Linked DNA regions of Homo sapiens: region 1 is linked to region 2. The links come from fine-mapping of genetic effects on gene expression. A gene starts in region 2. The other region holds a variant in brackets. All regions are shown on one strand. Distances are from middle to middle. Region 1 overlaps SLC43A2 (solute carrier family 43 member 2). Region 2 holds the start of SLC43A2 (solute carrier family 43 member 2).

Evidence for each region. PIP is the estimated chance that this variant, and not a neighbour inherited with it, causes the effect.
Region 1: its variant is the best candidate, but not a certain one, in a credible set for the expression of SLC43A2 in whole blood (INTERVAL, PIP 0.63).

The regions. Positions count from the first base shown.
Region 1 is chr17:1,592,428-1,597,793 of GRCh38, forward strand. SLC43A2 (solute carrier family 43 member 2) reads right to left here. Exons shown (of 14, transcript NM_152346.3): 6 at 760-852. Among named protein-coding and RNA genes, the nearest start is that of PITPNA, 32 kb to the left of the region's middle. RefSeq lists an enhancer at 1,208-1,709. The variant T/C (reference allele first, on the strand shown) is at 2,706.
Region 2 is chr17:1,626,093-1,631,458 of GRCh38, forward strand. It overlaps SLC43A2 (solute carrier family 43 member 2), which reads right to left and starts at 2,742. Exons shown (of 14, transcript NM_152346.3): 1 at 2,702-2,742; 2 at 1,623-1,828. The coding sequence starts at 1,782. RefSeq lists enhancers at 915-1,452, 1,453-1,990.

The sequences.
Region 1 (5,366 bases), 34 kb before region 2:
CCCCAAAAAAAGGAGGAGGAAGAACTTTCGGGATGCTCCCCAGTCCAGGGGCATGAGAATCTCTGCAAGTCCATAGGATGGCTGGCCCCAGAGTCCCAGCTCCCACCACTTCAATGCCCAGGTGGCCAGCCCACACCGTGTCCCCCTCTCCTCGCCAACAGCATTCCCACACACACCACCGAGGAAAGGGGCTTTTACTTAGTGTGAGGGTCAGAGGTGGGAGAAGCCCCTACGGGGCCCTGGCAGACCCACAGGGTCTGGGGAACTTGGGCTGATGGACTGTGAGGTGTTTGCTTCGTCCTGACCCTGTGTGACTTCCACAGGCTCAAAATCCTGCCTAGGAGGGAAACAGCTGAAACACTTGGCCAAGAGCAGTGCTTTGGCTGGCGGGGAGTAACGGTACAATAACAGCAGGCTGGGGGTTGGGGAGCAGGGGAGCAGCGGGAGACCAGGATGACGGAGGAGACGGGGGCAAGACTCACAACTGGAAACAGACTCACCCACCGCCCTTCCCCTGCCCCAGCCCCGAAATGCAAAGGCACCTGCGGCAGATCCTGCAGCCACATGCGTGATTCCCGTCCCCTGAGGCCCCGCGGTTTTCATTTGTCGCCCCTGTGATGCCCAGGTGCATCCTGCCCGGGTGGGGGTGGTGGAGAGGGGCCACCCCGGGTGCCCACAATTGCCTCCCTCTTCAGAGAGGGTGGAAGGAGCCTGGAGCAGGCCTCTGCACAGACACCAGTGCAAAATACACGTGCTCACCTTGATTCCTGGAAAGGTGACTGCCGAGGAGGCGTAGGACCCAATCATCAAGGCAATAAACGTGGACCGAAGGTCGCCGAACATGTTGGGCAGCTGAGAGATAAGAAGCAGAGAAACCTCAGTGGGGAGGATGCACCAGGGAAGGGGAGGAGGAGGGGACAGAGAACTAGGCCCCATGAGGCCCCTTCTTCACCTGCGCCCCTTCCTGTGTGACTCACAGGGGCATTAGTTCAGGGGCAATGACCGCTCACTGAAGGTTTCTCCTTCATGGACTGAGGCTGATGGGGCCAAGGAGGGAGGTAATGCAGAATACAAGCAGTTGTCTGACTTTCCGGCTGGCAACCCTCCCTATCTCTCTGCTCCTGGCAGAGCCCAGGAGCCTTCTTGTCTTTTCAGGGTAACACTGAGATGCCAGAGAACAAAGTTATGAGCCTCAGGCAGCCCTCAAAGGGAGAAAGCCTGTTAAAAATAAGAATCTATTTGGGGATAATAGCATCATTTTATAAATAAAAATATCAGCATTCCAGAAAGACCAGATGTCAGCAAAAACTGCTTTTGGTTTGGAGAGGGTAGGTTTTTGGAAGATGTCAATCAGAATTCTACAGTTCTCTTCGGTCTGAGGATGAAGCTGGCCCAGGATTCCTGCTTCTGAATTTCTTTTCTTTGTTTTGAGATGGGGTTTTGCTCTTGTTCCCCAGGCTGGAGCGCAGTGGTGTGAGCTCGGCTCGTTGCAACCTCCGCCTCCCTGGTTCAAGTGATTCTCCTGCCTCAGCCTCCCAAGTCGCGAGATTAGAGATGCCCGCCACCATGCCTGGCTAATTTTTGTATTTTTAGTAGAGACGGGGTTTCACCATGTTGGCCAGGCTGATCTCAAGTGATCCGCCCGCCTCGGCCTCCCAAAGTGCTGGGACTACAGGCGTGAGCCACCGCGCCCGGCCTCCTGCTTCTGAATTTCTCAGTACAAGCAGGGGATTATCTTCCCACAGGATGTTCGGCCCGAGCAGTTAGCATCCTGGAAGGCCAACGGGAAGCAAGGTCCGGGCTCTCTTCCCAACGAAGCCACTCTCGGCATCTCACATCAGCTCATTCTGGGTACAGGGCAAGAGGGGGCCCACCTGAACAGGACTTCAAGGCTAACTCTTGCTCATTCTACCGAAATCCAGGCCTAGGGCAAACTACATCCTCCCAAAGAGGCACAGGTTCTCTAACCTCAAGAGACATCACACTGTGTGTAGCAAACCTTTCCTGTCCACACCCAGCGTCCCTGGCCTTGGGGGCTGCCCTCTGGATAGCCATGCCAACCTATTTCATTAAATTCAGGCTGCTTATGGGGACTTAATCTATGTCCCCTCCACCCTCCCCACCACTCCCCATTTGTCTTGAATCTTTTTCTTTCTTTCTTTCTTTTTTTTTTTTTTTGAGACGGAGTCTCGCTCTTTCGCCCAGGCTGTACTGCAGTGGCTCTATCTCGGCTCACTGCAAGCTCCGCCTCCCAGGTTCACGCCATTCTCCTGCCTCAGCCTCCCGTGTAGCTGGGACTATAGGCGCCCGCCACCACACCCGGCTAATTTTTTTGTATTTTCAGTAGAGACGGGGTTTCACCACGTTAGCCAGGATGGTCTGGATCTCCTGACCTCGTGATCCGCCCGCCTTGGCCTCCCAAAGTGCTGGGATTACAGGCGTGAGCCACCGCGCCCAACCTTTTTTTCTTGTTTTAAGAGACAGGATCTGCTGGACGCAGTGGCTCACGCCTGCAATCCCAGAGTGCTGCCTTTGACCTCAGAGTTTAAGACCAGCCTGGACAACATGGCGAAACCCTGCCTCTGTATCTTTTTAAAGTTAAAAAAAAGAGAGAGAGACAAGGGGGGCAGATCACCTGAGGTCAGGAATTCGAGATCAGCCTGGCAAACATGGCGAAACCCTGTCTCTACTAAAAATACAAAAAT[T/C]AGCCGGATGTGGTGGCAGGCGCCTATAATCCCAGCTACTTGGGAGGCTGAGGCAGGAAAATGGCTTGAACCCGGGAGGCGGAGCTTGCAGTGAGCCGACACTGCGCCACTGCACTCCAGCCTGGGTGACAGAGCGAGACTCTGTGTCAAAAAAAAAAAAAGAGAGAGAGAGACAGGGTCTCATTCTGTTGCCCAGGTGGGAGTGCAGTAATGCAATCATAGCTCACTGCAGCCTCCAACTTGGCTCAAGTGATCTTCCCCCCCCAGCTCCCAAGTCACTGGGACAACAGGCCCACGCCACCATGCCCCAGCTAGTGGTTTTTTTTTTGGAGGCAGGGTATCGCTCTGTCACCCAGGCTGGAATGCACTGACATGCAATCTTGGCTCTCTGCAACCTCCACCTCCCAAGTTCAAGCGAGTCTCCTGCCTCAGCGTCCTGTGTGGCTGGGACCACAGGTGTGCACCACCATGCCCGGCTAATTTTTGTATTGTTAGTAGAGATAGGGTTTCACCATGCTGCCAGGCTGGTCTTGAACTCCTGACCTCAAGCGATCCATCTATCTTGGCCTCCCAAAGTGCTGGGATTACAGGCATCAGCCATCACGCCCGGCCTTTAATTATTTTTGTAGAGATGGGGTCTCACTATATTGCCCAGGCTAGACTTGAACTCCTGGCCTCAAGCTCTTCTCCCACCTTGGCCTCCCAAAATAAATAATTTTTGTTTTATCAAACCTGCCTGCCTGCAAGCAAATTAACTGTTACTGAGCGGAGGGAGTTTGAACTTGGCGACATACCTGTCTGCAGTCACTGCTGCCTGTTTTGCCCACTTTTAAAAATGAGTAAGGGATGTCAGCAAAATTTAAAACCTCTGTGCTTCAAAGGATGGCATCAAGAAAGTGAAAAGAGAGCCGGGCGCGGTGGCTCACACCTGTCATCCCCGCACTTTGGGAGGCCGAGGCAGGCAGATCACGAGGTCAGCAGTTCAACACCAGCCTGGCCAACATGGGGAAACCCTATCTCTACTAAAAATACAAAAAATTAGCCGGGCGTGGTGGTGGACGCCTGTAATCCCAGCTACTCGGGAGGCTGAGACAGGAGAATCCCTTGAACCGGGAGATGGAGGTTGCAGTGAGCTGACATTGATCCACTGCACTCTAGCCTGGGCAAGAGTGCGAGACTCCATCTCAAAAAAAAAAGAAAGTGAAAACAGGCTGGGAGTGGTGGCTCGTGCCTGTCATCCCAGCACTTTGGAAGGCTGGGGCAGCGGGATTACTTGAGGGCAGGAGTTCAAGAAAGTGAAAAGAATGCACAGAATGGGAGAAACTTCTTACAAATCACAGATCAAGAGCTTGCATCTAGAATATATAAACATAGTGCCCAACAGTTATTCAAAAAACAAAAAATAGAACATATAAAGAACCCCTACATCTCAATAATAAAAAGATAAATAACCAATTTTTTTTTTTAGATGGAGTCTCGCTCTGTCTCCCAGGCTGGAGTGCAGTGGTGCGATCTCGGCCCACTCCAACCTCTGTCTCCTGGGTTCATGCCATTCTCCCACCTCAGCCTCCCGAGCGGCACCTCCCATTGCAGGTATGTGCCACCACGCCCAGCTATTTTTTGAAATAACCAATTTTTTAAATGGGCAAAGGATCTGAATAGACATTTCTCCAAAGAAGATATACAAATGGCCAATAAGCATATGGAAAGATGCTCAACATCATTAATCATAGTGAAATTCAAATCAAAGCCACAATGAGATACCACTTGATACCCATTAGGACACCAAAAAGTCACAGTGAGGCCAGGCGCGGTGGCTCACGCCTGTCATCCCAGCACTTTGGGAGGCCGAAGCGGGCGGATCACGAGGTCAGGAGTTCCAGACCAGCCTAGGGAACATAGTGAGACCCCGTCTCTACCAAAAATACAAAAACTTAGCGAGGTATGGTGGAACATGCCTGTAATCCCAGCTACTCGGGAGGCTGAGGCAGGAGAATCACTTGAACCCAGGCGGGGGTTGCAGTGAGCCGAGATCGTGCCACTGCACTCCAGCCTGCGCAACAGAGCAAGACTACGTTTTAAAAAAAAGAGGCTGGGCACGGTGGCTCACGCCTGTAATCCCAGCACTTTGGGAGGCCGAGGTGGGCAGATCACAAGATCAGGAGTTCAAGACCAGCCTGGCGAACATGGTGAAACCCCGTCCCTGCTAAAAAAATGCAAAAATTAGCCAGGCATGGTGACGTGCACCTGTAATCCCAGCTACTTGGGAGGCTGAGGCAGGAGAATTGCTTGAACCCGGGTGGTGGAGGTTGCAGTGAGCCAAGATTGTGCCACTGCACTCCAGCCTGGGCGACAGAGCAAGACTCAAAAAAAAAAAAGAAATGAGGCCGGGCGAGGTGGCTCACGCCTGTAATCCCAGCACTTTGGGAGGCCAAGGTGGGCGGATCACCTGAGGTCAGGAGTTCGAGACCAGCCTGGCCAAAATGGTGAAACCCCATCTCTACAAAAATGCAAAAATTAGCTGGGCATAATGGCGGGCACCTGTAATCCCAGCTACTCAGGAGGCTGAGACAGGAGAATCACTTGAACTTGGGAGGCAGAGCTTGCAGTGAGTCAAGATATCGCCACTGCCCTCCACCCTGGGCGACAGAGTGAGACTCC
Region 2 (5,366 bases):
AAAAACACCTGCCCACAACAGTTCTCTGGTCTGGGTGAGACACTAAAAGCTTTCTCTGGGGACGATGACTTTTTTTCTGCTTTTTTTTTTTTTTTTTAAACCCTGTGTCCAGCCTGAAAGAGCCCACCAGGGAGGCAAGCAGGAAGGGTCACGATCTCTAAGGGGGGAGAGAGGAAAGGAGAGGAAGAAGTAAACACTCCAACCTGTGCCTTTCGGGGACAGGCATTAATCTCCTAACAACTCTTGGCCAAAGCAGAAAGCTTGTTCAGGGAACAAGGTCTGACTCTTCCCAACTCCCAAGATTTCTTGCTGATGTGGGGAAAGACCTGCCAAGAACCCTTAGGCTATTAGGAAATATTTTTGAGTGGCTAAAGGCTAAAGGTTAGTTATAAATGATATACTTTCTGTCCTCTCCCCGCGGCCTCTGCATTCTCCTGCTTTCTCCTGCCCTGAACCTCTCCAGCTAAGCCTCCCTCCCTAGAGACTGGGACACACAGGAATCTCCGGGGCAGATCAGAGAAGGGAAACAGGGAGGCTTCCACAAAGGATTACACCCAGCATGAGCTGGTCCAAAGCTTTCTCTTCCTGCAAAGAGCTCTAGAAAGAAAAGGCCTGCTGCTGGGGATTCAGGAAGTCAAACCTGGGCTACCTCCATCTAAGGGCACTCTAGCACTGGCGACAGGGATTATGTGAGCTCAGCTATTATGCAGCTACCGTTGGGATCAAGGAGAAGGCAGAGGGAAAATTTCCTGTCAAGGTTGCCTAAGAAGGAGGGTAGGAGGCTAGAGGCTGGGGGCTGCTGTGGCCCTCCTGTGGGGCTGAATTTACTGCCCTGTAGTCATCAGGACCCTCCAACAGGGTATGAAGGTGTGAAGGTAAGTGTGTGTTGGGTGGTGCAGATGTCATGTAGAGAAGCATCCTCAGCCTGCCTTCAGCAATTCCAGTGACAAGGCAAAGAGGAGAGAACAACCCTAGCATCATTTCCATAAACGTTCCTTTCTTCTCTTCCCCTTCATCCCCATGGGGTTGGAAAGCCACGGAGATGTCCTCAGAGCCCGTGGGGGAAATGTCCTTTGGAGAATCATAAGGCAGCAAAAATAGACAAGAAATTGTGTCCAGCAAGCACTTAGGAGACTCCACAATGGCCTGAGGAACGTCTAGATTCTAGATGAGCCCTCCCTGGGGTGGAGGCAAGGCCACTTCCTCTCCTGCTGCACCCCAGCCCCTTAATCTGGAGTTCCTCTTTCTCACAAGCAGACAGCAACATGTTTACTACCAGCCAAGCTATGTTCCAGGGCTGGGAGGAGAGGAGAGCAGTCCAGCACTGTTCGTAGCGGGTGGAAGGAACACCCTGGACAGCAGGTGGGGTTCTGGGTGGATGGCAGGCCCAGGCTCTGCGGCCTTGCGCAAGACAGATCGCTCTGAGCCTCGATGTCTTCGTCCACAAAACAGGGGCAATGACAAGTACCCGGCAGGGCTGGGTGAGGATCAGATGGGCCTTCTGATACCCTAGAGGCACTGGGCAATGCGGTGCTGTGGCTCGCTAGGTCTTCGCCCCCATCCCGCCCCCTCCCAAAGCCCCAGCTCCAGGAGCCCCCCGCAACCCCAGGCGCTTGTCTCACCTGGCTCGGTACACAGGTAGGAGTAAAAGCCCTCTGACTTGAGCATGATGAGCAGCGAGCCCCAGCCCAGGAGGACTGCCGAGAAGAGGAGGTTCTCCAGCACGGCCGTGCAGGCCATCCACCAGCGGCGCCGATGGGCAGTGGCCAGGGTGGGCGCCATGGTGCGGCGCGGCGCGGCTCCGGCTCCGGCTCCGGCTCTGCACCACCTGCGCACAGAACTCGGCGTCAGCGGCCGGCCCTTGCCCAGCCCCTGCGGCCGCCCCCAGCAGCCCCGACCGCTGCCGCAGGGCTCGGGATTGCCACCCCTCCCCGGCCGCGGCGGCCGGTGCGCGCAGCAGAGGAAGCGAACCCCAGCCCTGCCCGGACCTGGGACACCCCGAGCCCGCGGCCGGCTCGTACCGCTGCCCTCCGCTACGACAGAGCCGCCCCGGCCAGGCAGGGAGACGTCTCCCGCAGCTCACTCCGAGGTAAACTGAGGCATGGAGGCAAGAAGGGGCTAACGCATGCTCAGGGCCGTGGAACTAGTCCTGGCCTGCAGCAGGACTGACATCGCCTGGGGCCAGCATGGAACGCAGCGTGAGGTGGGCAGGGGCAGATCCGAGGGCTGCCTCTCCCAGGGACCCTGACAGGTGCCCTCCCGCCCGCGCCCGAGACCCTTCCCCAGAGCTGGTTTCTTCAACCACAAGATCAGCGCCCAGACCTACGGAACGGCCCGCCCCGGCGCGCTCATTGGCCGGACGGCGCAGGAACTGCCGCGCCATTGGCCGCCGTCTAGGTCGCTAGGCGCTGCGGCCACGCGAACCCAGCGTGGGAGACGAGGAGCCGGTTCAAACCGGTGGCGCGAGCCAGCCGCGCGACCCCCATCTCGGGCGTTCCCCCGGCAACTCGCCCGTTTCCATGGCCTCGGACCCCCGCGCCTCCATTCCCCAGCCCGCATCTGTTCGTCATCTCTTCCCTGGCGGCCCCTCATCGCTCCATCTCTCTCCTCGTTCCCACGTTTTCTCCCTACGCCCCTTCGGCGGCCGCTTCTGCCCCCGCGCCCTCGCCCCGGCCGCGATCCCCTCCCTGCTGCAGCTCACCCGGCTCCTCCGGCGTGTGTCGGGCCCGCCCGGCGCCTTTTCTGCCCTCTTTTATTCCAGCCCTTTTATTCCGACCCCAAGAAGAAAACACTGCCGCCCGCTGATTGGCTGAGCGGGGCTGGAAACAGGCGTCGACCAATCAGCAGCCAGCCCCCCGCCCGCCCCGCCGCGAGCAGAAGCCGGTTCCGGCCGGACTCGGAGACAAACAAGAGAGATGGGGGACGGGAGGGGCCTGGGCGCTGCGGGCCGGGCCTCGGCTTTGCAGCCTTCAACCCGAGTCACAGCGCGGCCGGGAATCCCCGGCGACATCGCCCCGCGGCCTCTCCAGCGGCCTGACCCTGCGAGGCTGGGGCTCCGGCTCCGCGTCCCGGCCCCCAGCGGACTCCCCCCAGAAGCCGCCGGGCCACCAGCGCCCCCAGCCGGGCTCTCCCGCGGCCGCCCCGCCGTCCCCAGCTGCCCCCTGCGCGCGGGTCACCACGCCCAGATGCGCCGGCTCCGCACGGTGGTTCCACTCTCGAATCCCCACCCCGCCTCCTCCCCACGCAGCGCCGCCGTCCCCGCCGCCTCGGGCTTTGGGTCCTGGTTCCTCGCTCCCCCGCCCCGGTGGTTCCCGTCCCGGCGTATTCGGGGCCTGGGATCCCGGACCCGGTCCAGCCGTGGCGCCCCCCGCTGATGCACCGACCCCTTCCCCTCTCCCCGGTGGCGTCTGCCCGGTCCCTGGAAGTTGGCCCTTGGAAATCTGCAAGGGGATTTGGGGCTGGTCTGTCCCGTCCTAGGATGGGGTCTCCTGAGCTCCCCCCATCAGACTGACCTTTCTCCGCCCGTGTTCACGCACTGCTCGGTCCTCCGGGGACCCTCCACCCTTGATCGTCATCTGGGTGCTCCCTGCCCGCGCTGGCCACCTTCACCCCGTTCCCCGTCCCTTTCAGGGAAGGTCCCCTCTGCAGGGCGATGCTACGGGCCACGTCCGCCAGCTGGTACAAGCTAGGGAGGGTTCGAGGGGGCTCCGGGTCCCCGTCTGATAAGCCCGGGCTCCGAAAGCTCAGCTCCCCGTCTTCGTCCCCCGGATTCGAGGCACTAACCCGACCCGGGAAGACCCTCTGACTGCCCCAGAATCGCCTTGGTCACCCTGGCTCGCTCCGGGGGGCTGGCTTAGCACCCCAGGGCTGCCGCGCGGTGTCCACGTCTGGAATCCCAGCGGTTTGGGAGGCTAAGGTCGGAGGGCCACTTGGGGACAGGAGTTTGAGACCAGCCTGGGCAGCATGGCGAGAACCATCTCTACCAAAATAAAAACCAAAAATAAAACCCCACCACCACCCCAGGGCTGTGGGAGCCCCAAACGCCTCTTGCTCCACCTGCCCCAGTCCGAGTGTGCCCCCTACTGTCTAGAATCCGCCCGGGCCACCTGGCGAGGGCAACCTCCCCCAGACAACGCTTGGAGCTGTCAGCCTGCTGGGGGGCGGCTCCAGCTGGTAGCCTACCCGGTTCCTCACCCTGTGGAACCCTTCCCACTCCCAAGGTTTCAACTGCCATCTGAAAAATCTCTTTCTTCACCCTTCCCTCCTCTTTGAGCAGCCTGACGGCGCTGCAGGGCTCAAACATGCCTCAAATATCCCCCAGAACTGTCCTCCACATTTTCTCTCAGATAACCATACTACTACTGTCTACTGAAGTTAGATACCAAGAACCCTGTCTTTTTTCTTTTTCTTTTTTTTTTTTTTTTTTTGAGACAGGATCTCAGGCACCCAGACTGCTGGAGTGTGGTGGCATGATCATAGCTCACTGCAGCCTCGACCTCCTGGGCTTAGGTGATCCTCCTGCCTCAGCCTCCCAAGTAGCTGGGACCACAGGTGCATGCTACCACACTTGGCTAATTTTTGTATTTTTTGTACAGATAGGGTCTTGCCCTGTTGCCCAGGCTGGTCTTGAAGTCTTGGGCTCAAGTGATCCTCCCACCTCAGCCTCCCAAAGTGCAGGGATTACAGGCATGACTCACAGTGCCCTGCTGAGAACCATCCTTTCATCAGACATTTGTTAGGCAGTCGCTGTGATTCTGCCTCTCCCTCACCGCATCCCCATCAAACTGATACAGCTGTATCTCCTACATATTTACCTAATCGGTCCATCTGTGCCCTTAGGCCCGCAACTACTGTTGTTGAGCCACCTTCAGATTTCAGTTCCTCAAATCCAGCCCCCATCTCATCCCAGGGCACTAAGGGAAATGTAAATGTGACTTCTGCCAAAATCCTTCAGAAACTATTATTTGTAAAACAGGATAAAGTTCCAGTTCCTGGCTGGGCACGGTGGCTCACACCTGTAATACCAGCACTTCGGGAGGCTGAGGCGGGCAGATCACTTGAGGTCAGGAGTTAAAGACCAGCCTGGCCAACATGGTGAAACCCTGTCTCTACTAAAAATACAAAAATGGCTGGGCGCGGTGGCTCACGCCTGTAATCCCAGCACTTTGGGAGGCCGAGGTGGGCAGATCACAAGATCAGGAGTACGATACCAGTCTGGCCAAGATGGTGAAACCCTGTCTCTACTAAAGAAACAAAAAATTAGCTGGGTGTGGTGGCGCACACCTGTAATCCCGGCTACTCTGGAGGCTGAGGCAGGAGAATCACTTGAACCTGGGAGGCGGAAGTTGAAGTGAGCCGAGATCGTG